4 linked regions of the Homo sapiens genome follow. The protein of the gene in region 1 purifies or fractionates together with the protein of each later gene. This does not show direct contact. Each region holds a gene or a part of one and is shown in the gene's direction. Other genes may lie near its edges.

The links.
Region 2: the proteins of CFLAR (region 1) and PLIN5 purify together in Homo sapiens (affinity purification with mass spectrometry; 3 studies listed by BioGRID and IntAct, with this or other methods). This does not show direct contact.
Region 3: the proteins of CFLAR (region 1) and ITCH purify together in Homo sapiens (affinity purification with western blotting; 8 studies listed by BioGRID). This does not show direct contact.
Region 4: the proteins of CFLAR (region 1) and RIPK1 purify together in Homo sapiens (affinity purification with western blotting; 5 studies listed by BioGRID and IntAct, with this or other methods). This does not show direct contact.

What each region holds. Positions count from the first base shown.
Region 1 is NC_000002.12:201,111,491-201,119,168, forward strand, and holds the start of CFLAR (CASP8 and FADD-like apoptosis regulator), read left to right. Parts: upstream 1-4,673; 5' UTR 4,674-4,991; exon of another isoform or gene 4,992-5,194; intron 5,195-7,225; exon of another isoform or gene 7,226-7,411; intron 7,412-7,537; exon of another isoform or gene 7,538-7,678. UniProt on the Homo sapiens protein: Apoptosis regulator protein which may function as a crucial link between cell survival and cell death pathways in mammalian cells. Acts as an inhibitor of TNFRSF6 mediated apoptosis.
Region 2 is NC_000019.10:4,532,219-4,540,165, reverse strand, and holds the start of PLIN5 (perilipin-5), read left to right. Parts: upstream 1-4,941; 5' UTR 4,942-5,001; intron 5,002-6,070; 5' UTR 6,071-6,091; coding exon 6,092-6,151; intron 6,152-7,947. Other genes in the region: LRG1 (leucine-rich alpha-2-glycoprotein precursor), read left to right, coding at 153-184, 1,215-2,226. UniProt on the Homo sapiens protein: Lipid droplet-associated protein that maintains the balance between lipogenesis and lipolysis and also regulates fatty acid oxidation in oxidative tissues.
Region 3 is NC_000020.11:34,478,259-34,485,279, forward strand, and holds part of ITCH (E3 ubiquitin-protein ligase Itchy homolog), read left to right. Parts: intron 1-1,371; coding exon 1,372-1,531; intron 1,532-2,340; coding exon 2,341-2,474; intron 2,475-2,807; coding exon 2,808-2,948; intron 2,949-7,021. UniProt on the Homo sapiens protein: Acts as an Acts as an E3 ubiquitin-protein ligase which accepts ubiquitin from an E2 ubiquitin-conjugating enzyme in the form of a thioester and then directly transfers the ubiquitin to targeted substrates.
Region 4 is NC_000006.12:3,071,474-3,078,494, forward strand, and holds part of RIPK1 (receptor-interacting serine/threonine-protein kinase 1), read left to right. Parts: intron 1-2,165; exon of another isoform or gene 2,166-2,329; intron 2,330-5,290; coding exon of another isoform or gene 5,291-5,350; coding exon 5,351-5,514; intron 5,515-6,305; coding exon 6,306-6,462; intron 6,463-7,021. UniProt on the Homo sapiens protein: Serine-threonine kinase which is a key regulator of TNF-mediated apoptosis, necroptosis and inflammatory pathways.

The sequences.
Region 1 (7,678 bases):
GCCTGTAATCCCAGCACTTTGGGAGGCCGAGGCGGGTGAATCATGAGGTTAGGAGTTCGAGACAAGCCTGGCCAACATGGTGAAAGCCTGTCTCTACTAAAAATACAAAAAATTAGCTGGGCGTAGTGGTGGGCGCCTGTAATTCCAGCTACTTGGGAGGCTGAGGCAGGAGAATCACTTGAACCCAGGAGGCGGAGATTGCAGTGAGCCGAGATCGTGCCACTGCACTCCAGCCTGGGTGACAGAGTGAGACTCTGTCTCAAAAAAAAAAAAAAAAAAAAAAATTAGCTGGGCATGCTGGCGCGCACCTGCAGTCCCAGCTACTCGGGAGGCTGAGGCAGGAGAATCGCTTGAACCCGGGAGGCGGAGGTTGCAGTGAGCTGAGATCATGCCACTGCACTCCAGCCTGGCGACAGAGCGAGACTCCATCTCAAAAAAAAAAAGAATGTATTCTTTTTAAACTAAATTTATTTATATATATTTTTTGAGACGGGGTTTCACTCTGTCATCCAAGCTGGAGTACAGTGCTGTGCTCATGGTTTACTGCAACCTCAACCTGCCTGGCTCAAGTGATCCTCCCACTTCAGCCTCTTGAGTAGCTGGGACCACATGTATGCATCACTACACCTGGCTAATTTTTTAATTTTTTGTAGAGACAGGCTCTCCCTGTATTGCCCAGGCTGATCTTGAACACCTGGGTTCAAGTGTTCCTTCTGCCTTGGCTTCCCAAAGTGCTGGGTTTATAGGCATGAGCTACCATACCCAGCCAAGAATATATTCTCCCAGAATGTCAGAGGAGTTGAGGCAGGATGTGTGGCTAAGAGAGTAGATATAAAGTCATTGCTGTGGCTATTAATTCTCCATTCCCAAGTCACCCACTGTGATATAAGGAAAAGCATTAGATAAATTCTTGGCATCCTGTCCTAGTCCTGTCACTAGCTAGTTGTGAGATGTCTCAATTTATTAACTCACTTTAAGCCTCAGATTCTTCATCTGAAAATTGGGTTGTGGTTGACGGAGTGAGAAAATGTTTGGATTAGATCAGTTGTTCTGAATCTTAACTGTACATTGAAATCACACGGGGAGCTTTAAAAACTACCAATCCCTGGGTCTCACTCTCAGAGATTTTGATACAATTAGTCTGGAATGGTACCTGGCCACTGAGGTTTTTGCAGCTCCTTGGGGACAGTCTAATGTGCAGCCAAGGTTTACAACCAGTGAATTTGATGAAAACGTGAACATTTGTTGCTACTTTGTTAAGTGTGGAAACAGAAAGTCAGAGAGGCTTAAGCAATACTGCCCTTGGACCCAGGCACTGGGGGTCCTGTTGTGGGCCCTGATTTAGAAGGGCCTTGCTCCGGCTCTTCTTGGGCTGTGCCCTTCCCTCAGGTGAGGAGAATCATCAGAGGTGGGAGGAGTCTGCAAGGTCAAGAGGACATGCCCACACCGAGACCCTCTGTTTAAAACCCTCTTTGGGGCTGGGTGTGGTGGCTCTCGCCTGTAATTCCAGCACTTTGGGAGGCCAAGGTGGGCAGATCACTTGAGGCCAGGAGTTCAAGACCAGCCTGGCCAACGTAGTGAAACCCTGTCTCCACTAAAAATACAAAAATCAGCCGGATATGGTGGTGCGCGCATATAATCCCAGCTATTTGAGAGGCCGAGGCAAGGGAATTGCTTGGGCCTGGGAGGCAGAGGTTGCAGTGAGCCAGGATTGTGCCACTACACTCCAGCCTGGGTGACAGAGTGAGACTACGTCTCAAAAAAACAAAAAGAATAAACCCTCTTTGGGTACCTAAGACCTGAAGTTCTCTACGCAAAGAGCCCTGAGCCTCCCACCAGGGCCTACATTGGCCTCTTCCCCAAGTCCATACCCCAGGGACAAACTATGCTGCAAGTATGCACATCCCTAAGCCCAAGGGGTGGCTGATTTTAAGAGGATGTAAATGGAAAGTGGACTGCAGGTGGGAGTGTCAACATAGGTGTATACAGTCATTCTTTGAGGGCTGCTGAAGCCAAAGGATAAGGATGGCACAGGGGTAGGGGGTTAAATGCCTGCCCCTACTGGTTTGCCAAATGGGATGACAACATGGGCTTCCAATGTGAGCCAGAAAAAGCCCTCAGGGAACGACATATGGATATGCTGGGTTAGAAGTCATACTGGTGTGTGTTGAAGTGGTAAGAATCAGTGGGCATGCAAGGTGGGCCTGGGGTAAGTCCACTATGATGGTTCTACTGACAACCAGAAATGGCTTTCACTTGGGATAGGGTGGGTTGGAGGTGGTGATGGAGGTGCTAAGCTAGGTGTTCTTGAATAGTAGTTTCCAAATTAAGGACAGGTGCTGATCTGTAATAAAATTTTCTTGGTGTACTAAAAAGATAAGAAAGGCCAAGAGCAGCAGTGGTCATGCCTGTAATCCCAGTGCTTTGGAAGACCTAGGCAGGAAGATCACTTGAGGCAAGTTCAAAACCAGCCTGGGCAACATAGCAAGACTCCCTGCCACCCACGACCCCCGCTTCTACTAGATATATATATATATATATATATATATATATATATTTTTTTTTTTTTTTTTTTTTTTTTTTTTTTTGAGATGGAGTCTTACTCTGTCTCCCAGGCTAGAGTGCACTGGCATAATCTAGGCTCACTGCAACCTCCGCCTCCCGGGTTCAAGCAATTCTCTGCCTTAGCCTCCTGAGTAGCTGGGATTACAGGCGCCCGCCATCACACCCAGTTAATTTTTTGTATTTTTAGTAGAGATGGGGTTTCACTATCTGGGCCAGGCTGGTCTTGAACTCCTGACCTCGTGATCCACCCGCCTCAGCCTCCCAAAGTGCTGGGATTACAGGCATAAGCCATTGCGCCGGGCCACAAATTTTTTTTTAAAGAATTAGCTGGGCATGGTGGCACCTGTAGTGGCACACCTAGCATGGTGGCATGCTAGGACCTGTAGTCCTAGCTACTCAGGAGGCTGAGGCAGAAGGATCACTTGAACCTGGGAGGTTAAGGCTGCAGTGAGCTGTGATCGGGTCACTGCACTCCAGCCTGGAGTGAGACCCTGTCTCAAAAACAAACAAAAAACCAAACTTGGATAACTGACAGAGTTTAGGATAGAATTACATGGAAAAACCAACAAAACAAGACAATTATTAACTCCAGAAAAAACTAAAAGTTGTGTGGGAAAGGAAAAGTAATCATAGTTTGGTACATAACTTGGCTGTGACTACCGTTTACATGATTATAATAGCATATATACTGAAGATTAATCAAACAGAATATAACTATCTTGGGAAGATGGAGAGATTAAAAAAAAAGGTTGGGGGTGAATATGGGGTGAAAGTGATGGAGAAAAAGAGCTGAAGTCTCCTCTGGTGTCTCAGCACTCCACCCAAGGTAGAGCCTCTGGATGGAAGAAGGAATCTCCCACCTCTCCACCACACTCCCCCAGGATTTACCTTCAGCATCAGGTAGCTAGGGGCAAGATGAGAAATGCTGATATGCTGGTCTCTGACTGGGAGCTGTGGGAAGAGAGAGGTTCTGAGTTGCAGCAGTCTGGAGTGGAGTCTCTTGCTGAACAAAGGGAGAGGTTTGGTTTAAATACCACAGACTGACTCTCACATTCTGATCCAAGAGTTTTCATAGATTTTTTGGAACAGATGTTTCTTCATTTGCTGTTTGCCCTTAGGACCATTTCAAAGGCTTTAAATGGTTAATGGTTGTTTGTTGTTTTAAATAATTTTCAGTTTCACTAGGGGTGAATCCCGAGCTCTTCATGCCGTCCTGCTGTTAGTCTCTCTTGGTATTATTCTTCACCTTTCCTGTGAGTTTAAAATTATCTCAAGAAAAGTTAAAGCTCTTTAAGAATCACAATAAAGTAGTTATTAGGAATAAATAAAAACGTAGAGGGGCGCGGTGGCTCACGCCTGTGATCCCAGCACTTTGGGAGGCCGAGGCGGGCAAGGATCACTTGAGGCCAGCAGTTGGAGACCAGCCTTGCCAACATGGTGAAACCCCATCTCTACTAAAAATACAAAAAAAAAAAAAAATTAGTCGGGCATGGTGGCTTGCACCTGTGGTCCCCGCTACTTGGGAGGCTGAGGGCTGGATGGTTTGAGAGCGGGAAATCCAGGCTGCAGTGAGCTGTGATGGCGCCACTGCCTTCTAGCCTGGGCGACAGCGCGAGACCCTGTCTCAAGAAGGAAAACAAAAAAAAACAAACAAAAACATACACACAAAAAACCACAAAGTGTGTTCACGTTTGCTATGACTCCCAGACAACAATTGTAAACACTCGCGCCGGGCGTGGTGGCTCACGCCTGTAATCCCAGCACTTTGGGAGGCCGAGGCGGGCGGATCACGAGGTCAAGAGTTCGAGACCATTCTGGCCAACAGTGAAACCCCGTCTCTACTAAACACAAAAATTAGGCGGGCGTGCTGGCGCGTGCCTGTAGTCCCAGCTACTCGGGAGGCTGAGGCAAGAGAATCGCTTGAACTAGGAAGGCGGAGGTTGCAGTGAGCTGAAATTGCGCCACTGCACTCCAGCCTGGGCCACAGAGCGAGACTCTGTCTCAAAAAAGAAGGAAAGAAAGAAAGAAAAAAAAAAACACTCGCAGTGTTTACTCCTAACGCGTGGAACTTGTGTCGACATCCACCCCCGGTTACTGCATACTCAGTCACACAAGCCATAGCAGGAAACAGCGAGCTTGCAGCCTCACCGACGAGTCTCAACTAAAAGGGACTCCCGGAGCTAGGGGTGGGGACTCGGCCTCACACAGTGAGTGCCGGCTATTGGACTTTTGTCCAGTGACAGCTGAGACAACAAGGACCACGGGAGGAGGTGTAGGAGAGAAGCGCCGCGAACAGCGATCGCCCAGCACCAAGTCCGCTTCCAGGCTTTCGGTTTCTTTGCCTCCATCTTGGGTGCGCCTTCCCGGCGTCTAGGGGAGCGAAGGCTGAGGTGGCAGCGGCAGGAGAGTCCGGCCGCGACAGGACGGTACGTGCCCCGCGCTCGACCCCCGCGCTGGCGGCGCCGGAGCTGTCCCAGACCCCAAGCCCCGACGCCCGGCCCTGAGTCAGCATTGCAGCAGGCCCTGCGCCGCCGCGCCCCGCGTCCCACCCCGCGCCGCTCCTCACAGCCCTGCGCTCCGGGAAACTGCAGGTGGCCGGCAGTGGCCAGGGGATGGCGGGGGCGCTTCTGGAACCTGACTCAGTTTTGTAGGTTCCTTATCTCGGTTGTTTACCGCGGGCTTTGCGGAATGCCCCCGCTTCCGTTTCCGCCCGGCTCCGAACCCCCGAACCCCTTCTACCCGCAACTCCGCCCCGGATTCCCAGAAAGGGGCGACCTGGGCCACAGCGGTACAAGCTGCACCCCGATGGACCTGAGAGACCGGAAGTAACCCTTGGCCAACTCTGGCCGCCCCCTGCAGCCGCAGCCCCAGAGGCCCACCCGCGAGCTTCAGTGGCGGGCCCTCAGCGTCGTGTAAACTTTGCTTAAAATGATCTTGAGAGTTCAATTCTTGGGGTGAACTGTTGAGAAGATCTGGCATTTTTCCTTTCGAAAGTTGTTGGGAACGTGGACTTTCCCAACAATTGTGTATGCGCTCGATCTCACTCAGTGGGAGCCGCCGCCCTGGAGGGAATTTCACAATAGCCTGGTCAGGGCGGTTATTTTCCAGAGCAGTTTAATGTCTATTTTGCCCAAGTGCAAGGAAAGCTTGCCTTGGGAAAGCTGGGAATGCTTGGCTAATGAAAAGTTTTTAGAGCCTTTTAAAATGAACCTGTTTCTGCCACTTTTCCACCGCCTCAAAACGACTGGGAAATGTAAACTGGCTTCAAGATGTTCTTGCTTGAGGGTGTCTGGATTTGGACAGAAGGCCATGTTCTTTTAATATTAACAGTGGCACGCAGTAGAACAAAGGCCACTGAAATTCAGAATCAGTTTTTGGCTCCACGGGCAGGAAGTAAATTCAAGGACGCCAGAGGTCTTGCGAATATTTTAATTGGTTGACATTTGAAATTTGTTCTTAAGCAATGAGGGGTGAAACCAGTAGGGGGATAGCGTATAGCATAAGTAAAGCTTTTTGGACATCAACAAACTGCGATAATCTACAACAGACAGCGGGCTCTGGAAGGTTTGACCTGCTTTAGAGAGAGATTTCCGATAAGAGGAACGGAGTTTTTGGCACTTTTCGGTTTGGTGATTCCCCTAAATAACCTTACAAAAGTTTCGTTGAACAAAAAACCTGGCTGGAGCTCCAAGATCTTTTTTTTTTTTTTTTTTTTTTGAGACAGCATTTCACTCTTGTTGCCCAGGCTGGAATGCAATGGCACTATCTCTGCTCACCGCAACCTCCGCCTGTCGGGTTCAAGCGATTCTCGTGCCTCAGCCTCTCAAGTAGCTGAGATTACAGGCATGCACCACCATGCCCGGCTAGTTTTGTATTTTTAATAGAGACGGGGTTTCTCCATGTTGGTCAGTCTGGTCTCGAACTCCTGACCTTAGGTGATCCGCCCGCCTCGGCATCCCAAAGTGCTGGGATTACAGGCGTGAGCCACCATGCCCGGCCCAACTCCAAGATCTAAACAAAAAAGACTGGGTTGAAAGGGAGTTTTTAATGTTTACTGTTTGCTTTACATCCATTTTCTTGTTTTGTTAATACTTGCTTTACTTAAGCTTTTGGGTCAAATGTCCTCGTTAAAATGGCTTTCTCTAGCGACTTTATGTTTTACGTTTCTGTTTGTAACTGACATTTGACCTTCTTTTAACACGGTATTACTTGCTTCCTTATACCGGTTTCCAAGGTGAAGCCATTTGCAGGGTCGCTGGGTTTCCCCCTCCCCCCGAAAGTCTTGCGCGACCCGGGGTGGGCCGGATAGTGTGCAGTTTTTTGAGCCTTGGGCTGGGGACCTCCAGGAAGCTGAAGCGGAAATTGCCTAGGCCCCTGGGGCATTGGAGGTCCTACCGCAGCTCCTAGTAGGTGGTGGGGGCGCAGCGGCTGTCCCCACTCAGTCCTGGTGGGGTCGCACGTAACGGTCCTGAGCTATGCATAAGCCGTTTGACCACGCATGGAGAATTTTACCACCCAGAGACACGCGAGTGGCCCTGTGCAAGTTTCAACTGCGCGGGGGGCGGGGAATTCCGCAGACAGGATTCTAGAATTTATGTCTTGTGTGGTAACATTTCAGCCGGTGGGTGGCGGGGATTAGGCGTGAAGCGGTTCAGCAGGCAGAGGTTCTCGGACGCCCTCCGGCGAAGCCACCTGTTGATGCTTTTGACTTTCTGTCCTTGTTCCTCGTCCCATCTGGAGCATTTCCAATTCTGGTTTTGCGGAGCAGCAGGTCTGAGCTTGTCCGGCGAGGGTGGGAGTTGGTCCCGGCGGAGATCCAGTGGGAAGAGCCGGCGGCTGCCCGGGCGTGAGTAGACCGAGAATCCTGCCCGATCCCCGCCCCTGGGCTGGTGTCGCCCTGGGCTCCTGGGACGTCGGGGCACTGTCCCCCGATACTGGCAGAAAAGGATTGAGTCCTCGCTTTTGGCCCTAGGTCTCCTTGAGCCTCCAGAGGACTCACAACACTCCGGGGCATGTTGCTCTTTCAAATACCAGGAATGGACTCTGGGGAATGGGGCACCCTTGAAGTCTGATTATTTCTTCCCTGTAGAGCCCCAGGGGCTAATTAAACTCG
Region 2 (7,947 bases), on another chromosome or scaffold:
CCCTTCCCCTGCCTGGCTTAGGCTCAGCCCCTATCAGGAACTGGACGGGGGTGGGGACTTCCCCAGGGTTGGTTCCCCTGCCCCCAGTCCAGGCAGGTATAAGGCCACCTCCGCAGGCCAGGACAACCCAGAAGCAAAAGAGCAGAGCTACCATGTCCTCTTGGAGCAGACAGCGACCAAAAAGGTAGGTCCCCACACTACCTGTCCTAGGCAGGTTTGAACGCCAGACCATGCGGAGATACAGGACATTCCAGCTAACCCATAGAAGTCACAGGGAGCAGATACAGGCCTGGTGGCTGGCACAGATCAACCTTATCTGTGACAGAAAGACTGGCGCGTGCACACACACACACACCCCTACAGAAGCCCAGGTGGGCATGGGCAGCAGGGAGCCGGGGGAGGCTTCTTGTTAGAGGCCTGGGGCCACAGTGACCAAGGCTGTCGAGATCATGTCTGATGGCTGCCGGGCCAGGGAAGCCCTGGAGGAGGAGGGGAAGCCCCAGGCTTCCAAGGGTTGTGGTGCTAAGTGTAAACCACCGCTTCCCAAGGCCAAATGCCCACCCTCAGACCTGGCCAAAGCAGGACACACTTTTCATGTTCAGAGGCTGCAGTGAGCTGTGATCATGCCAGTTCCCTCCAGCCTGGGCAACTGAGCAAGACTCTGTCTCAAAAACATGAACCTGAACGTCTGTCTTCCTCCAAGCACCCAATTGGTCAAGAGTGGACAAAAAGACCAGGATCCCAGAGCAGAGAAGTCTTCATGGAAAAGAGGGCATTGGAGCTGGGGCTTTGAAGGATGAATAGGAGTTCACATCAAAACACAGAGCCAGGGAGACAAGGACTGACCCAGAAAATAAGCCAGATCAGAAGAAACTAGCAAGTTGGACTGTGAATAATTAACAGCTCATGGGGGCTAGGCTGGTGATGGGGAAGTGTATTCATATTATGCGGGAGTTACACTCAGAAACTCAACTTTCCTAGAATTATAATTCTCCCTGGAACAGGGGCCACTTCTGGCAGCTGTCGGGGGTGAGGGTAGAAGCTGGAAGAGGAGGAGGAAGCAACTGCCCTAGTACAGGTGAGAGATGAGGTAGCATAGTCCAGGCTGGTAGCCGCAGAGATGGGAAGAAGTGGGCGGATTTGCTGGTGTATTTTCACCTAGCTGAGTGTATTTTCACTGTGGTTTAGTAAGCATCTTCTGTTACTGCCTGCAGCCCAGGGGGCATTCAACCCCATGTTTCTAGAACTCTGTTCCTGCTGCTGCTGTTGGCAGCCTCAGCCTGGGGGGTCACCCTGAGCCCCAAAGACTGCCAGGTGTTCCGCTCAGACCATGGCAGCTCCATCTCCTGTCAACCACCTGCCGAAATCCCCGGCTACCTGCCAGCCGACACCGTGCACCTGGCCGTGGAATTCTTCAACCTGACCCACCTGCCAGCCAACCTCCTCCAGGGCGCCTCTAAGCTCCAAGAATTGCACCTCTCCAGCAATGGGCTGGAAAGCCTCTCGCCCGAATTCCTGCGGCCAGTGCCGCAGCTGAGGGTGCTGGATCTAACCCGAAACGCCCTGACCGGGCTGCCCCCGGGCCTCTTCCAGGCCTCAGCCACCCTGGACACCCTGGTATTGAAAGAAAACCAGCTGGAGGTCCTGGAGGTCTCGTGGCTACACGGCCTGAAAGCTCTGGGGCATCTGGACCTGTCTGGGAACCGCCTCCGGAAACTGCCCCCCGGGCTGCTGGCCAACTTCACCCTCCTGCGCACCCTTGACCTTGGGGAGAACCAGTTGGAGACCTTGCCACCTGACCTCCTGAGGGGTCCGCTGCAATTAGAACGGCTACATCTAGAAGGCAACAAATTGCAAGTACTGGGAAAAGATCTCCTCTTGCCGCAGCCGGACCTGCGCTACCTCTTCCTGAACGGCAACAAGCTGGCCAGGGTGGCAGCCGGTGCCTTCCAGGGCCTGCGGCAGCTGGACATGCTGGACCTCTCCAATAACTCACTGGCCAGCGTGCCCGAGGGGCTCTGGGCATCCCTAGGGCAGCCAAACTGGGACATGCGGGATGGCTTCGACATCTCCGGCAACCCCTGGATCTGTGACCAGAACCTGAGCGACCTCTATCGTTGGCTTCAGGCCCAAAAAGACAAGATGTTTTCCCAGAATGACACGCGCTGTGCTGGGCCTGAAGCCGTGAAGGGCCAGACGCTCCTGGCAGTGGCCAAGTCCCAGTGAGACCAGGGGCTTGGGTTGAGGGTGGGGGGTCTGGTAGAACACTGCAACCCGCTTAACAAATAATCCTGCCTTTGGCCGGGTGCGGGGGCTCACGCCTGTAATCCCAGCACTTTGGGAGGCCCAGGTGGGCGGATCACGAGGTCAGGAGATCGAGACCATCTTGGCTAACATGGTGAAACCCTGTCTCTACTAAAAATATAAAAAATTAGCCAGGCGTGGTGGTGGGCACCTGTAGTCCCAGCAACTCGGGAGGCTGAGGCAGGAGAATGGCGTGAACTTGGGAGGCGGAGCTTGCGGTGAGCCAAGATCGTGCCACTGCACTCTAGCCTGGGCGACAGAGCAAGACTGTCTCAAAAAAATTAAAATTAAAATTAAAAACAAATAATCCTGCCTTTTACAGGTGAAACTCGGGGCTGTCCATAGCGGCTGGGACCCCGTTTCATCCATCCATGCTTCCTAGAACACACGATGGGCTTTCCTTACCCATGCCCAAGGTGTGCCCTCCGTCTGGAATGCCGTTCCCTGTTTCCCAGATCTCTTGAACTCTGGGTTCTCCCAGCCCCTTGTCCTTCCTTCCAGCTGAGCCCTGGCCACACTGGGGCTGCCTTTCTCTGACTCTGTCTTCCCCAAGTCAGGGGGCTCTCTGAGTGCAGGGTCTGATGCTGAGTCCCACTTAGCTTGGGGTCAGAACCAAGGGGTTTAATAAATAACCCTTGAAAACTGGATCGGATGAATTGGCTTTCATTGTGTTCCTAGCATCTTCTCAAATCAACTTCCCAGGACTCCAGGGTGAAGGAGGAAAAGAGGCATGGCCCAGGCCCTGGGGTGTGGGATATGGTCTCCCTAGGGGATGACAGTTGGGATCAATGGCCTGTGACTTCTCCTCTCCCTTCCCCCATCCTGGGACCTAACTGGAAATAAAACCTTGACTGTTGCCCGGGTGTCATTTTACCAGTGGATTTCTGCCAGGGCTTGTGTCCTAGGAGAAGGTTTAAGTTAAACCAGATTGCCCAGGTCTCCAAACGATTTGTCATGCTGACCTGAGATCATCGAAGGGGGCACCTGCCCCCGGGCAAGGTTGCAGGGGCAGGATGGGGCTGAAGGGATGAGCAGGGTCCCGGGCCCACCTGCTGATACAGCATTGGCCATGTGGGGGCTGCAATCGGATTTGGAAGACCCTGGGGCTTGGGGGCATGTCCAGTTTTCCCAGCTCCCTAAAAAATGACCATGCAGCCTGGCGCCGTGGCTCATGCCTGTAATCCAAACACTTTGGGAGGCTGAGGCAGGCAGATCACCGGAGGTCAGGAGTTCGAGACCAGACTGGCCAACATGGCAAAACCCTGTCTCTACTAAAAATACAAAAATTAGCCAGGCACAGTGGCACGTGCCTGTAATACCAGCTACTTGGGAGGGTCAGGCAGGAGAATCACTTGAACCTGGGAGGCGGAGGTTGCAGTGAGCCAAGATCACGCCACTGCACTCCAGGCTGGGCGACAGAGTGAAACTGTGTCTCAAAAATAAAAATAAAAATAAAAAGACCATGCCTACATCTGTGGTCATTCCAGGCAAGGCAATGAAAAGGCAGGGTTCTGAGGTCCAGCAGGGCTGGGTTTGAATAGGATCCCTGGCCGGGCACGGTGGCTCATGCCTGTAATCCTAGTACTTTGGGAGGCCAAGGCAGGCAAATCACGAGGTCAGGAGTCCAAGACCAGCCTGACGAATATGGTGACACCCCGTCTCTACTAAAAATACAAAAATTAGCTAGGTGTGGTGGCAGGCGCCTGTAATCCCAGCTACTCCGGAGGCCGAGGCAGGAGAATCACTTGAACCCAGGGGGCGGAGGTTGCAGTGTGTCAAGATCGCGCCACTGCACTCCAGCCTGGGCGACAGAGTCAGACTCTGTCTCAAAAAAAAAAAAAGAAAAAAAAGGAATAGGATCCCTCACTTGCTGTGGTATGCGGGGCAAGTGTTTTATGATCTCTGAGCCTCAGCTTGCTCATCTGTGAAATGGGGATCCTAGGGAAAGGGAAGGCCTGGCTTCTGGCTTAGTTAAGGGGCAGATTAAGAAATAAAAAGAGGCTGGGTGCAATGGCTCACACCTGTAATCCCAGCAATTTGGAAGGCTGAGGTGGAAGGATCACTTGGGGCTCAGGGGTTGAAGACAAGCCTGGTCAACACAGGGACATCTCGTCTCTACAAAAAGTTTAAAAAGTTAGCTGGGGGTGGTGGTGTGTGCCTGTGGTCCCAGCTACTTAGGAGACTGAGGCGGGAGGATCACCTCAGCCTGGGAGGGCAAGGCTGCAGTGAGCTATGATCACACCACTGCACTCTAGCCCTGGGCAACCGAGCAAGACCCAGTCTCAAAAATCGATAAATAATAATAATTAATAAGAAAAGTCATCAGCGAGTTGGCCAAGGTCACTCAGCAGGGCTATGGGGGCTGTGATCGCATGGACTGTCTCTATGGCAACAGCAGTGAGGATGACAGGTGGCCAAACTTGGTCCGGGAACGTATAATAGCTCAATCTTTTGAATCTAGCGCTCCCGAATTACTATGGCAACCGTAGGGCACTGGGCCAGCTCAAGGAGAGGGCGAGGGAAGCCTGGAGCCACGCCCCCTGGGCACGCCCCCGCACGGCCTCTCCCCATTGGTCAGTTCCGGAGGCCCCCACTGCGCGAGCAGCTATAAGAAGGGCGGGCGGGACCGGCGGGGGTGTGGAGACTCGAGCCTGGGGTCGGCGGAGACAGCTGGTGTCTGAAGCCGCTCGCGCCCAGGTGAGTGCCCTGAGGGCGGCGTCCGGGAGCGCCCCCCCGGGCTTAGGAGAGGAGCTCCAGATAGGGTGGTTGGGCGAAGGTCCGGCGGCGTGGGACGGGTATGACCGGCCAGAGCAGGTGGCTGGGACCCTTGGCCCGGTTGGCCCCAGCTCAGGACCCAGTTGGGCGAGGACCAGGCCTCAGAGGACGCGGGGTGGCAACCGGAGGGATCGCAGGCGGCAGGTCTGAGGCCCGAGGTCGAGCTCCCCCCCTGTAACTCTAGCTGGCTGCGTGACCTTGGGACCAGCATGGACCTGCTGCGTACCTCAGTTGCCCTGTCTGTCAAATGAGCTGTGAGTGGACTGGGACCCAGCAGCTACCACCTCCAGCCGTCTAGGGTGCTTGGGCAGTTCTGGGCCCAGGCAGGGGCCGCAGGGGTAGCAGGGACCTCCCACATCTTACAAAACAGGAAGCAGCCCAGAGAGGTGAAGGTGCTTGCCAAAAATCACACAGCTGGCCAGGTGCAGTGTCTCATGCCTGTAATCCCAGCACTTTGGGAGGCCGAGGTGGGCAGATCACTTGAGCCCAGGAGTTTGAGACCAGCCTGGGCAACATGGCGAAACCCGGTTTCTACTAAAAATACAAAAATTAGCCGAGCATGGTGGCACGTGGGTAATCCCAGCTAACTGGGAGGCTGAAGCAGGAGAATCACTTGAACCTGGGAGGCGGAAATTGCAGTGAGCTGGGATGGCGCCACTGCTCTCCAGCCTGGGCGAGAGAGATTCTGTCTTTAAAAAAATAATAAAAATAACACCGCAATTAATGGTAGCATTTGAACCCAGGTCTTTCTCACCTCAGAGACCATGCTTCGAGTCACTCCGGCAACCCTACCTTGCCAGAGGCTCATTATTGGACACCCTCTGTGTACAGAGCTCTGGACATGCATTGTCTGAGCTCCACAGAATGCCCCATTATGCAGATGAAGAAACTGAGGCCCCAAGAGGTTTGAGAGTTGCTCAAGTCACAGAGCCCAATTTGACAGGATCTGATGCCTGGGCAGGTGCTCCCCTTACTCAATCCTGCCCCGCAGGGTGACCCTGTTTGCAGCACGATGTCTGAAGAAGAGGCGGCTCAGATCCCCAGATCCAGTGTGTGGGAGCAGGACCAGCAGGTGAGGGCTGCCCCTCCCATGGAGCAGGGACAGAAGGTATTGTGTGGGACAGTCCCTTCTAGGAGCGTTTCAGGCCAGGTATCCCGCCCCACTCCTCTCCTTGCTGGGAAAACCTGAGTCATAAAATATTTTGGTCCATGGAGGGGATGGTCTATTTCCTAGTGGGGGCTTAATGAGGCCCTGGGAGGGGAGTGTCTCTCAAAGACACCCAGCTGGCTTCTGTGGCCCCTACCCAACCCTTTCCCTCTCCTTTGATCCCTGGGTCTCCACCTGTATCCTTCTGTCTCCACGTCCACCATCATGGCGCCCTCAGTAACAACAATAGTAAGAGCAGCAATCACTGTATCAGTCACAGTTCCAACCGTTTCATGTATATTGGCTCCTTGAACACCCATCACAACCCTAGTAACCCATTTCATAGATGGGGAAACAAAGGCACCGAACAGTTCAGTGGCTTGCCCAAGTTCACACAACTTGCAGGCAGCTGAACCAGAAGTGAACAGAGGCCACTGTGCTCCAGGGGCAGTGCTCTGAACCCCCAGACTCTAACATCTCCTCCCTCGAGCAGACAGATCGCAGTGGACCCTTCAACAACATGGGTTTGAACTGCACAGGTCAGGCTGGGTGCGGTGGCTCAGACGCCTGTAATCCCAGCACTTTGGGAGGCCAAGCGGGCAGATCAACTGAGGTCAGGAGTTCGAGACCAGCCTGGCTAACTTGGTGAAACCCTGTCTCTACTAAAAATACAAGAATTAGCCGGGTGTGGTGGCGGGTGCCTGTATTCCCAGCTACTCGGGAGCCTGAGGCAGGAGAACCGCTTGAACCCTGAAGGCGGGGGTTGCAGTGAGCCGAGATCACGCCACTGCACTCCAGCCTAGGTAACAAGAACGAGACTCCATCTCAAAAAAAAAAAAAAGCCAGGTGGGGTGGTGCCTGCCTGGAATCCCAGCTAATTGGGAGGCTGAGGCAGGAGAATCTCTTGAACCCAGGAGACAGAAGTATGCAGACCTTTTTCAACCAAATGCAGATAAAAAAAATATAGTATTTGGCCAGGTGCAGTGGCTCATGCCTATAATCCCAGCATATTAGGAGACTGAAGCGGGAGGATCGCTTGAGCCAGGAGTTCAAGACCAGCATGGGCAACACAGCAAGACCCAATCTCTATAAAATAAAATAAAATTAGCTGGGCACAGTGGTGTGCACCTGTAATCCCAGGTACTTGGAAACTGAGGTTGGAGGATTGCTTGAGGCTAGGAGGCTTAGGCTGCAGTGAGCCGTGCTTGAATCACTGCCCTCTAGCCTGGCCAACAGAGCAAGACCTTGTCTCTATTGAAAACAAAAAAATTGTGACCAGGTGCAATGGCTCAGGCCTGTAATCCTAGCACTTTGGGAGGCTGAGGTGGGTGGATCACCTGAGGTGGGTGGATCACCTGAGGTCGGGAGTTCGACACCAGCCTGGTCAACATAGTGAAACCCTGTTTCTACTAAAAATAAAAATAAAAACAAAATTGGCTGGGCGCGGTGGCTCACGCCTGTAATCCCTGCACTTTGGGAGGCCAAGGCAGGTGGATCACCTGAGGTCGGTAGTTTGAGACCAGCCTGACCAATGTGGAGAAACCCCATCTCTACTAAAAATACACAAACAAAACAAACAAAAAAAACGGGTATGGTGGCGCATGCCTGTAATTCCAGCTCCTCGGGAGGCTGAGGCAGGAGAATCACTTGAACCCGGGAGGCGGAGGTTGCGCTGAGCCGAGATCGTGCCACTGCACTCCAGCCTGGGCGATAGAGCGAGA
Region 3 (7,021 bases), on another chromosome or scaffold:
TAGTGATCAGGTCATTTTCCCCACCACAGATTACTGATACAGGTAATAGTTACTCAGTTTCCAACTGAGATTAGTATATTTGTCATGAAAATATAGAAGGTTGTACAAAATAGGAGTTGAAAGTCTTAATTCTGCTTTCTTCATATTGGAGCTTAATATTGGACCCTAGAAGATAGTCTCTAATGAGAATTGCTTTGCTTATTCCATGATAATATATCACACCAGGTTAAAAATTTGCGTAGAGCTGGCATTGTGCAAAGACAAGGACTTTGGGGTCAAGACGGGATTTGAATCTTTTTCTGCTCTCAATAGTGTGATGTTGGGCAAATATTTTCATCTGTAAAATAAGAATATTAATATCTACATTTCTAGGATTATTGTGAAGAGTAGAAATATTGTTTATTAATGACCTAGTTCAGAGCCTGTGTCTTTGTGTGCACGCTAATTGGTGGCTACATTTTAGTAGTTCTTATTTATATTATGTTTCTGAGTTTAAATAAAATTATTTCAAAATATATGATATAATCATAGATAAATAACAAATATGAGTAGAAACATGTAATTTTGTATAAGTTAAAGGCAATTGAAGAGGAGAGCAATCATTCATTCCTAATAAGAAAATAAACTAGCAATATTAAAGTGTGTCATGAGATACACTTATCACAAGAGGCCATGAACTAACAGGAAAAGAGATCCAGATTACAGGCTTATGCCACATGTATTACCCCAGATCACCCATGTTACGTAGTTTTAGTAACCATAATCTTATGTTAATATTGGTTCATATTTTCACAATATTTGACTTAGAGTCTCAGCATTTTTCTAATATGTGAGTGGCTGGAATTAAGAACTTTACTGCCTCTGTGAAATTGGAAGAATTTTCATATTGATTTAACGTGTAGGGAGTAGTGGCACTTGATGGGGATTATTATGGGACTTAGTAATAGATGGAATATTAGATTGATTTCAGCCACTTTACTCACATGGGTAAATAGTGAATTTTAAATTTGCCTATGAATAGTATTTCATTGATTCTAAGACTAATATTTTCATTTTATAATATCTCTGAAATTACGATGTATCTCAGGTAAAATTGGAAAATACAATTTAGTCGTTCATCAAATAAAGGTGCAATGTTGTCTTAGATTTTTTGAAATGTAATAATGTATATATTACCATCTACCAAAGATGGTGTATACTACCAACTCTGTGAAACAGATGTGAGTTTGAACAGAAGCAATAAAAATCAACATGAGATTAGAAAACTATCACTAGCTGAGGGGTATAGATCCCTGAGAACTTTATAGCACTGTTCTTTGATTTCTTGGTAACCTACAAGATTTTTCATCGTAAATTTTCTTTTGATTTCAGAGAATGGTTCTTTCTTTTGTCACATGAAGTGTTGAACCCAATGTATTGCCTGTTTGAATATGCAGGGAAGGATAACTACTGCTTGCAGATAAACCCCGCTTCTTACATCAATCCAGATCACCTGAAATATTTTCGTTTTATTGGCAGATTTATTGCCATGGTAAGTGCAGGTCAAGAATTATGTTTACTTTGCTTATTCAGCAATACTAAATTTTCTCTTAGGTGCCATAACAGATCATATGAGAGAAAGGGAAGTGGTTTTTTGTTTTGTTTTGTTTTTTATTTTTGAGACAGAGTCTTGCTCTGTCACCCAGGCTGGAGTACAGTGACACGATCTTGGCTCACTGCAACCTCTGCTTCCTGGACTCAGTCAGTTCTCCCGCCTCAGCCTCCCAAGTAGCTAGGATTACAGGTGTGCGCCACCATGCCTGGCTAATTTTTGTATTTTTAGTAGAGAAGGGGTTTTGCTATGTTGGCCAGGCTGGTCTTGAACTCCTGACCTCAGGTAATCCACCTGCCTCAGCCTTCCAAAGTGCTGGGATTACAGGTATAAGTCACCGTGCCCAGCCAGGGAAGTGTTTTTTTGAGACAAAGTTTCACTTTTGTTGCCCAGGCTAGAGTGCAATGGCGTGATCTCGGCCCACCACAACCTCTGCCTCCCAGGTTCGAGCAATTCTCCTGCCTCAGCCTCCCGAGTAGCTGGGATTACAAACAAGCATGTGCCACCATGTCCGGCTAATTTTTGTGTTTTTAGTAGAGATGGGGTTTCTCCATGTTGGTCAGTCTGGTCTCGAACTCCTGACCTCAGGTGATCCACCCACCTCGGCCTCCCAGATTGCTGGGATTACAGGCGTGAGCCACCATGCCTGACCCAGGGAAGTGTTTTTAAATGAAGAGTACATCTAATATATTGAAATAAAATGATTATTGTACAGTTATTTTAAGCGGTCTTGTTTCCTTTTTTCATAGGCTCTGTTCCATGGGAAATTCATAGACACGGGTTTTTCTTTACCATTCTATAAGCGTATCTTGAACAAACCAGTTGGACTCAAGGATTTAGAATCTATTGATCCAGAATTTTACAATTCTCTCATCTGGGTTAAGTAAGTTTCTTTTTCCATGTAATTTATTAAAATATAGTTATATGCATTCCGTGTAGTATTGATAACTTATCCAAACTGTAGGCACATAATTGGTTTATTGTATTTAAATGATCTATATATCAAACCTGTCTTTTTATTCAATATGATAAATTTTACAAAAATACACCCAAGATCTTCGGCAATAATATGACCTTAGAACAGAATCTTATTTCTTCTTATTTTGATGTTATAGCTTAATATTAATTATTTAAGAACATGGGCCTTTCGTTAAAAACTTATAAATTATGATTGAATTGGTGGATATAACAAATAGTGCTAATTTCATTTGTGCAGGGAAAACAATATTGAGGAATGTGATTTGGAAATGTACTTCTCCGTTGACAAAGAAATTCTAGGTGAAATTAAGAGTCATGATCTGAAACCTAATGGTGGCAATATTCTTGTAACAGAAGAAAATAAAGAGGAATACATCAGGTGAGAGTGCTCCTTTTCACATTTCACTTTTTGTTTGACTACAGCACATTGATAATTGCTTACTAATACTAATGGAGAGTATCTCCAAAAATAGTATTTGTCTCTGTACTAATCAATATCCTATGTAGGCAGTCATTTTTCATTTCTAAAAAGTTTTTTTTTAAGTGTTTTTAAAAGAGTTTTAAGGATAAAAGTCATGCAGGATCACTCTTTTAAACATCAACTCTGTAATCACTATGCTGTATAACATGTCATTAAAAAGAATCTCAAATATATATGCAGATATTTTCATGGGGAATATTGTAAGGTGTATTAATCCACTTTCCTGCTGCTGATAAAGACATATCCAAGACTGGGCAATTTATAAAAAAAAGAGGTTTAATGGACTTACAGTTCCACGAGGGTGGGGAGGCCTCACCCTCATGGTGGAAGGCAAGGAGGGGCAAGTCACATCTTACATGGATGGCAGCAGGCAAAGAGAGAGCTTGTACAGGGAAAACTCCTGTTTTTAAAACCTCATCATCGGCCAGGCATGGTGGCTCATGCCTGTAATCCTAGCACTTTGGAAGGCCAAGGCAGGCAGATCACAAGGTCAGGAGATTGAGACCATCCTGGCCAACATGGTGAAACCCCATCTCTACTAAAAATACAAAAATTAGCTGGGTGTGGTGGCATGTGCCTGTAATCCCAGCTACTAGGGAGGCTGAGGCAGGAGAATGGCTTGAACCTGGGAGGCGGGGATTGCAGTGAGCCAGGATAGCACCACTGCACTCCAGCCTGGTAACAGAGCAAGACTCTGTCTCAAAACAAACAAACGAATGAACAAAACACTTCATCATATCTTGTGAGACATATTCACTGTCATGCAAACAGCAGGGGAAAGACCCACCCCCGTGATCCCATGATTCAGTTATCTCACTGATTCTCTCTTACAACACATGGGAATTATGGGAGCTACAAGGTGAGATTTGGGTGAGGACACAGAGCCAAACCATATCATTCTGCCCCTAGCCCCTCCCAAATCTCATGTCTTCACATTTCAAAACCAATCATGCCTTCTCAACAGTCCCCAAAGTCTTAACTTATTTCAGCATTAACTCAAAAGTCCACAGTCCAAAGTCTCATCTGGGACAAGGGAAGTCCCTTCCGCCTATGAGCCTGTAAAATTAAAAGCAACTTAGTTACTTCCTACATACACTCAGGGATACAGGCATTGGGTAAATACAGCCATTCAAGATGGGAGAAATTGGCCAAAACAAAGGAGCTACAGGCCCCATGCAAGTTTGAAATCCAGCAGGGCAGTCAAATCTTCAAGTTCCAAAATGATCTCTTTTGACTCCATGTCTCATATGCAAGTCACCCTGATGTAAGAGGTGGCCTCCCATGGCCTTGGGCAACACTGCCCTTGGGGCTTTGCAGGGTATAGCCCCCCACCGGCTGCTTTCATGGGCTGGCGTTGAGTGTCTATGGCTTTTCCAGTCTCATGCTGCAAGCTGTTGGTGGATCTACCATTCTGGGGTCTAGAGGACGGTTGCCCTCTTCTCACAGCTCCACTAGGCAGTGCCCCAGTAGGGACTCTGTATGGGCCTCCAACTTCACATTTCCCCTCCACACTGACCTAGCAGAGGTTCTCTGTGAGTGCCCTGCCCCTGCAAGCAGACTTTTGCCTGGGCATCTAGGCATTTCCATACGTCTTCTGAAATCTAGAGGGAGGTTCCCAAGCCTCAATTTTTGCCTTCTGTGCACCCTCAGGCTCAACAGCACGTGGAAGCTGCCAACTCCTGGGGCTTCCACCTTCTGAAGCAACAACCCGGGCTGTACCTTGGCCACTTTTAGTCATGCTGGAGCAGCTAGGAAACAGGGCACCAAGTCCCTAGAGTGCACACAGCGTGGGGACCCTGGGCCCGGCCCATGAAACCATTTTTAGCTCCTAGGCCTGCCTACAGGCTTGTGATAGGAGGGGCTTCCATGAAGACCTCTGACGTGCCCTGTAGACATTTTCCACATTGTCTTGGGGATTAACATTCGGGTCCTCATTACTTATGCAAATTTCTGTAGCCAGCTTGAATTTCTCCTCAGAAAATGAGATTTTCTTGTCTATTGCATTGTTGGGCTGCAAATTTTCCAAACTTTTATGCTCTGCTTCCCTTACAAAACTGAATGCCTTTAACAGCACGCAAGTCTCCTCTTGAATGCTTTGCTACGTAGAAATTTATTCCACCAGATACCCTAAATCATCTCTCTCAAGTACAATCGTCTCTCTCAAGTACAAATCCACCAGTCTCTAGCACAGGGGCAAAATGCTGCCAGTCTCTTTGCTAAAACATACAAAGAGTCACCTTTGCTGCATTTCCCAAAAAGTTTCTCATTTCCATCTGAGAACACCTCAGCCTGGACTTTATTGTCCATATTGCTGTCAGCATTTTGGTCAAAGCCATTCAACAAGTCTATAGGAAGTTCCAAACTTTCCCACATTTTCCTGTCTTCTTCTGAGCCCTCCAAACTGTTCCAACGTCTGCCTGTTACCCAGTTCTAAAGTTGCATCCACATTTTCAGTTATCTTCAGCAGCACCCCACTCCTGGTAACAATTTACTGTTTTCACACTGCTGCTAAGACATACTTGAGAGTGGACAATTTACAAAAGAAAGAGGTTTAATGGACTTACAGTTCCACATGGCTGGGGAGGCCTCACAATCATGGTGGAAGGCAAGGAGGAGCAAGGCATGTCTTACATGAATGGCAGCCGGCAAAGAGAGAGCTTGTGCTGGGAAACTCCCATTTTAAAACCATCAGATCTTGTGAGACTTATTCACTATAATGAGAACAACATGAGAAAGGCCCGCCCCCATGATTCAGTTATCTCCCACTGGTTCTCTCCCATAACACATAGGAATTATGGGAGCTACAAGATGTGATTTGGGTGGGGACACAGAGCCAAACTATATCATAAGGTTGGGTAAAATTTATAACTAAAATGATGTTTTATAGTATATCCTTTCTGATTATTTCCATTGGTTCATGCTACTAGTCTCAAGAGCTAATAGTTCATTCATACCTTCTCAATAGCAATTCTTTCCAGCCAGGGTTAAATTTTGCATATTTACTTCTTAAGTTCCAGGTTCTGCATTTCTTGCCTGGTTTTTCCCTCCATAATTGAAAGTATACTATTTAACACAGTGAGCTGTCATTATTTCTTGGACAACAATCTATCCTTTTAAAAGTTTATTTTGAAATCTGCTTTTAAAATGTAGTCAATTCGTTTTTGTCAATTCTCCAGTTTTTTTGTTATGATATGTCTAGATTTTCTTATGACATATATAGCATTCCAGAGAGGTAATGTTTCGAGATTCCAAGAGATGTACTACGTTTCTCAATAGTTTTGTTGCTGGTAAGATAACATTTTAAGATAATGGGCAGCTAAAAAGGTTTTTAGTATCTACTTCAATAATGGCTTGCTTAAAATTTCAGAGTTTGGGGGGTTTTTAGTATTATTTTAAGAAGTATAATTTCCTTAGAATAAAATGCACTGATCTTAAGTGTAGAAGTTGAAATTTGACAAATATATATATCAGCCCAAATGTGAGCATTTTATGGAGAGAAGTTGTGCTAGATCACTCATTTAATTACCAATTCTGTAAACACTGTTCCATATAGCATCATGTCCATGTAAATATGACCCAAATTGTGGAACTTTTTTTTCTATTCTGGACCCCATAAGGGGCCAATGCACACCTCCCTTCTCCCAGCCCCAGAGGTAGGTAACCATTTCTGTTTAGTTCTATTTCTATAACTGTTTCTGATCTTAAACTTCCTAAAATGAAATCATAGAGTATGTACTCTTATATCTAGCTTTTAGTGTCTGATTTTTTCTTTTATTTGGTGTTTGTGAGATTCAGCCATATTGTTTATATCAGTATTTTATTCCTTTTTATTGCTGAGAAATATTCCATGCTGTGTATATCTCAAAATTTGTTTATCCATTCTCTTGGTGATAAATGTTTTGGTTGTTTCTCAGTCTGGGGCTTTTATGAGTAAAGCTGCTATAAACATTCTTGTGATATCTTTTTGTGGA
Region 4 (7,021 bases), on another chromosome or scaffold:
AGGCCAGCATGTCTTTGTCACTCTGTGTCATGGCTTTGTAATAATATGGTTATGCAGTATGGCCATATAAGCTGCCTAAATTCACTGTTTTTGTATATCCTTCAACTACTCACAAGGCCTTCCTAAGATATTCAGTGCTCATAAAGTTGAATCTTTCATGTGGAAAAAAGAGGGGTGGATAGGAAAAACAAAAGAAATCACTGAACACCATGCAGAAGATGCAGAAGATTAACAGACTAAACTAGCAAACCGCAAGACTGTAAGGAGAACTGACTTGGGTCAGGAGCTAAGCTCCCAAAGTCCAGTGGACCCAACTAGAGGCCTTCCCAAACTCCACCGCACACAGCAGCACCTGCAGGTCCTAGTTGGTCTTGACAAATTTGAGGAGATGTGGCTGAGACTGAAGAAGAGATACCAAATAGGACTCCTCATAAAGTAGAAACCTTTTACTCAAAAGGGCATTTTTCAGGGCATGTTGTAGTTCCTGCCTGTTTCTTTACTGTCTGTGACCTTTTTTAAATATTATTAAACATTCTTTCACAACATCGCTTTTGCAAACTGCTAGATATATTTCAGTGTTGATGGGCATAACTGATTCTCTCCTCTGTACATGCTAAGTGTTTTACCTACTTTTGCTGTTCTATGTAATGCTACCAGGAACAGCTTTGCACATAATCTTTATCAGCATCTCTGATTTGATCCCTCAGAGTAAAGAAATACTGAGTCAAGGAATTATTCCTTTCAAAAAAATAATTTTAATTTTACATTTAATTCATGTCTATTGTGGAAAATTTGGAAAACATAGTAAAAGTGTAAAGAAGAAAGTAAAAATCAACCTATCATCAAGATACAATCCTTGTTAACATTTTGGTGTCTTTATGTCTTTTTTATCTGTACTTATATCTTTATCTATTTACATATATATATATATAAAACACACACAAATGTGAATATAATTTTTACAGATTTATTCGTCAAAAACAATTTTGAATGGCTATATAATATTCTGTTAGGAGTGTGCCGTAATTCATTTAACAATATTTTTATTTTTATTTTTTTGGACAATTAAATAGTTCTCTTTTTAAAATAGTTATTCAATTGATGATGGGCCGGCATACGTTGGGTTCTGCTAGGCTCTGGAGATGGTGCACAAGACAAGTTTCCTGCCTTCTGTGAACTTCATGAGAAATAATTCTCAATTACAGTACTGTCTTACCTATGGAAGTGTCTAATGGGAAGACTTAGGATGGCTTCCTTGACAAAATGACAGTTCTCTGACACCTAACCAGGCAAGAAGTTGGAAGAATATGGCCTAAGAGGGTGGGGCGGATGACCCTTATGGAATGGGGAAGGCTTCACAGTTCTGCCTGCTCCAGTGATGTGTAGTGAATGAAAAAGGAGGCCTAAAATCAATGTTATCTTTTATGCCCTCTGTCTCCACCCGCTCCTACCTCATTCTCACTAGGATTGGTCAGTAGGGCCCTGCTGACAGAGTGATCCCAGCTGAGAATGTTGGCATTCTCAAAGCCCAAGGAAACAACACCCGTGTGGATAAACACATGTGGGCGGCTGGGCCAACCATAGCTAGAGACATAAAGCAGGCAACAAACGTGTTTTCACAAATATATACATATGTACATATATACGCATATACAAATATATACATATACGTATATACACATAGACAAATATAGCTATATATCTACATATACAATATATGCATACACACATACAAATATGTGTATATATACACACATATACATTTTTATATCATATATTATATATTACATATATACATATACAAATATATGTATATTTATACGTATACATACATGAACGTATACTTTTTTTTTCTCATAATCCTTACCACTTCTGTGAGGTGGTCATTATTGTTTCACTTTGCAGATGAGGAAACTGAGGCATAAGTAAGTGCCCCAAGGTCACAGGTTGGTGAGTCACAGAGCTAGAGTTCACGCTCATAGTGGAGGGCCCGTGCTCTCGGAGCTATGGCTCCTGGTCTCTTACCTCACGCGTGTGCCTCACCCCACCCCTCAGTCTTCAGGCCTTCATCTAGGCAGCCCCCCGCCTCCACCCACTGCCCACGTCCCACCGATGTAGTTGTTTCCTGAGGCACTTCTCTTGTTTGGTAATGTCTTATGTCCTAGGAAAGAAGGCCCATAGGTGCTGCTGTATGAGCTTCCTCCGCTAGACAGAGCTGGCCCCAGCCTTTAGATGAGGTGTAGAAGGCTGGTTACCCGGGTCACCTGTAGCCGGCCACTGTGCAACACCATGGGCAGCCTAGGAGTTTCCAGAGTCCCCTCTCCCCAAGGTATTTCTTTTTTCATTTTTTAACTCCCTGCCCTCCAACATTTTATTATGAAAAACACCAAGTCTGAAGGTTACGTCCACCACGACTATCGTCTTAACACCGCTTGCTTCATCGTGTAATTCTCCATCTCCTTTCCCGTCATCTGTCCGTCATTGTCTGACTTTTTGATGTATTTCCAAGTACACATCAGTACACATCTCGAAATACTTCAGCATGCATACCATAGCTAGAGTTCAATATGTTTACAGGTTTGTCTTTTGATGTAAAATTTACCTGCTGTTGTTGGGAGTACATCTGCTGAGTATGGGCAGATGCGTATGCCTGCAACCCTAGCCCCCGTTGATATCCTACAACATTATCATCACCCCAGAAAGTTCCTTCATGCCCCTGCCCACTCAGCCTCACCGTGCTCACAGGCGGCCAGTGTTCTTTTTCTGACACAGATTGGTTTTGACTTCTGAACCGTCATATAAATAGAATTACATAGTATGTATGCTTTTGTATAAGGCGACTTTCACTTATCACGTTTTTGCATTTCGTTCATGCGGTTTTCATTCATGTGTATCAGTAGTTCATTTTTATTGCTGAGTAGTATCCCATCGTGTTCATACACCAGTGTGTTCACTCATTCTCTTACTGATGGGCAGCTGTTTCCAGTTTGGAGCTATTATAAATAAAGTTGCTATGAACATTTTACAAGTGTTTTCCAACATACGTTTTCATTTCTCTTGGGATTGGAATTGCTGGGTCATAGTGCAGGTGTTTGTGGTTTTATAAACAAAATAAATGCCTATGAAATTTCAATGAATATTTTATGCCCCAGAAAGAGTATTTTTCATGGTCTGTATCTGGATGTAGATATTTATTATTTTATTTTATTTTAATTTTTTTGAGACAGAGTCTCACTTTGTTGCCCAAGCTGGAGTGCAGTGAGTGGCATGCGATCTCGGCTCACTGCAACCTCCGCCTCCCAAATTTAAGCAATTCTCCTGCCTCAGCCTCCTGAGTAGCTGGGATTAGAGGCGCGTGCCACCACGCCTGGCTGATTTTTGTATTTTTAGTAGAGACGGGGTTTCACCATGTTGGCCAGGCTGGTCTTGAACTCCTGACCTCGTGATCCGCCCGCCTCAGCCTCCCAAAGTGCTGGGATTACAGACGTGAGCCACGGCGCCCAGCCGGGATGTGGGTATTTCTGGAATACAAAACATCCATAGCCCTCCTTTTACTCTCAAAGCAAAACACAGACACGCACATTCACATGCACACACCAGTGTGTCCGTGTCCTGTTGGTTTGCATGGAGTTTCTGTTTTGCCACGAAGCTTTTTGCCAGCCCTTTTCCCAAAGTGTTTGTACCATTTTATACTCCCACCAGTGATGTTTGAGAGGTCTGGTTGCTTCACATGTTTGCCAGTGTTTGGTGTATTAGTCTTTTTAGTTTTGGATATCCTGGTAGTTGTGTAGTGGTGTCTCCTTGTGGTTCTCCATGGGTTTTTATTCTATATTTCAGTTTGGGGAAAATGAATGAATGGAAGAAAAGAAGGGAGGAAGGATGAAGCAAATAGCTGTGCTTTGAGATCTGACACTGTATACTTCACAGCCCTGATGGACATTCTCCAAATTCTACTCCTTTTTCACATTTTCTTCTTAGAGTTTGCATTGTTCTTTTTATATTCTTCAGATTCCTTCTTTTGTTCATAATTACTTAAACCTATTCATTTTCTAATGCCTTTCAGTTGTTAATTTACTGAAGTTCTTTGGTGCTTACTAGTGCTGCTTGCTGTAGCTGCAGGGTCTGTCTCACAGTGAATTTTTTCTTTTGTGTTTTATAATTTTGGAAAGGGAGCTCATGTTAAATTTGTATTTGTAGGAATTCTGTCTGGCCTGGCTTGAGGTTGTTGTTTGCTTTAGCCTATAACCTCAGGATGGCATCAGCCTGTGACCACTTCCTGTGTAAAAGTTCATAGTTTAGGCGATCCTCTCAATTCAAAGTCTGTATCTATTTCAAGACAGGCCCAAGGTTATAAATTTGCACAAACTTTTTTTTTTTTTTTTTAATACCTTGTGCCCAGTCCAAGACAAATATGTTTGTTTGCCATGGGCTGCTTTTTTTCTAGTTCATCCTTTCATCAAAGGGTTGCACATTGAGCAGTGCCGTGTTAAGGGGGGATTCTTCATTCTACCTTCTTTTCTTGTATTCCTTGACCTCAGCTGGGCTTTAAACCTTGACTTCTGGATGGCGAGGTTGGCACTCCCCTGTGTGAGCTACTGCCTGCCTCCGGTGCTCTGTTTCTGTCCCTAGAGTTCTTTTCCTTTCCACGGAGTTTTGGTATGCATTTCAATGAATGTTTGTATTATGTTGTCCAACATACTTGTGTCCTTTATAGCTGGAGGGTTCTTAAAATTTTCTAATGCTCCATATTGCCAGAAATAAAAAGGCTGAGGGAATAAATATTATAGTCTTCTCTGATTCTTAAAAATATGAAAAATAGCTCATCAGATGACTGTAAGTCTATCCTCAGAAATCCAAGGCACACCAAGCATGTGGTGGAATGTTAACAAAAGTTTTTAAAAATGATCTTTTCTGCCAGGTACAATGGCTCACACCTGTAATCTCAGCACTTTGGGAGGCTGAGGTGGGAGGATCCCTTGATCTTAGGAGTTTGAGACCAGCCTGGGCAACATAGTGAGATCCCCCGGCCCCCCCATCTCTACAAATAATTAAAAAATCAGCTGGTCACGGTGGGGTGCACCTGTGGTCCCAGCTACTCAAGGAGGCTGAGGGAGGAGGATTGCCTGAGCCCAGGAGGTCGAGGCTCCAGTGAGCTATGATTGTGCCACTGCACTCCAGCCTGACTGACAAAGTGAGACCCTGTCTCCAAAGGAGAAAAAAAAAAACATATATATATATATATATATATATATAGTCTTGCCCTGAGGTTTTCTCTCTGTTTTCTTTACAGGGTACAGCTCTGCCGGGGGGGGAAAAAGTGGTACCATTTTGGGCGTTCTTGAGCTTCAGAATGCAACCAGACATGTCCTTGAATGTCATTAAGATGAAATCCAGTGACTTCCTGGAGAGTGCAGAACTGGACAGCGGAGGCTTTGGGAAGGTGTCTCTGTGTTTCCACAGAACCCAGGGACTCATGATCATGAAAACAGTGTACAAGGGGCCCAACTGCATTGAGTGAGTAGGGAGCAGGGGTGGGTGGGCTAAGTTCTGAGCGGGATGGGGACGTTGGCTGTTGTGGAGCCGTTGGCTGCTGCGGAGCCGTTGGTGGGTAGAGTGAGAGGGAGCCTGCCAAGATGTCAGGGTGACGATGGCTCTTCGGATTGTTATTGTCGCTGATGTGGACTCTGAGACTGGGTAGTGAAGGACTCTCACAGCTGGTAAGTAACAGAAGAGACATGAACAAGAAGGAAATAGAGAAAGACAAAGAGATAAGTGTGGTGGGGGGACAATGAAAAGGAAACAGGAGGATGGGTGAAGACAGACCTATTCACTCGCTTCACATTTTCAGTGAGGACCAGCCCTAAGTATAAAAATGAAAAGGCAGTTCATTCCTGAGAGGTTCTGAGAGCCTTCCCTTTAAAGCAACCAGTAGAGTGGTTTCACCTCTCTCCCTCCTTTGTCAGAGTGGTTTTGAGAGAGGCTGTTTTTTTTTTTTTTAATCGTTCTGTCCAGCACGGTCTTTTTTCAGGTTACCTTGCTGCTGTTCATGTACTTTTCATTCATTGATTCATTCATTCCTTCATTGATTTACATTTTTGGAGCATGCACTGCCAGTTACTGGGCAGGAGTACTGTGAGGAAGTGAGAAACCGCTCTGCCTTCTAACGCTTCTGGCCTGTGCCTGGAAGAGATCGGTACAGACCCAAGCATGACCCCAGCACGTGGGAGTGATGTGTTGGAGGTGTGCACCAGGCTCTTGAGGCGCTGGCTCTGCCAGCCTCAGCATAGCACCTTTCCTGCCCACAGGCACAACGAGGCCCTCTTGGAGGAGGCGAAGATGATGAACAGACTGAGACACAGCCGGGTGGTGAAGCTCCTGGGCGTCATCATAGAGGAAGGGAAGTACTCCCTGGTGATGGAGTACATGGAGAAGGGCAACCTGATGCACGTGCTGAAAGCCGAGGTAGAGAGGGCCCCTCCGCACGGGGATCCCCAGCGCTTGGGCCCTGGCTGTCTGTTATGGCTCCCCTTGGGGTGTTTGTTTGCAGCTCGTTAGCATCAAATTTGCAAATTGCTTGGTAGTTTGAATTTTCTTTTCCTTTTTTTATAGAGACAAGGTCTTGCTATGTTGCCCAGGCTGAACTCCAACACCTGGTCTCAAGTGATCCTCCCACCTCAGCCTCTCAAGTAGCTGGGATTACAGGCTGGATTTCCTGAAGTCAGTTTCTCCTTAAAACATCTATGCCTTGATTGGGCTCCGTGGGTCACTTCTGTAATCTCAGCACTTTTGGCAGGAGGATCACTTGAGCCTTGGTGCTCAAGACCAGCCTGGATAACACAGTGAAATCCCCTCTCTACAAAAAATAAAAGGTGCATGTGAACAGAGCAAGACCCTGTCTCTGAAAAAAAGAGAAAATCTTCCTTGCCTTTTACTGCCCTGAGAGTGGTCTCTTCATCCTCTCGATCCTGTGGACAGTCCTCCATAGTCTGTGTCTTAGGAATGTGATTGGCTGTTTACCATA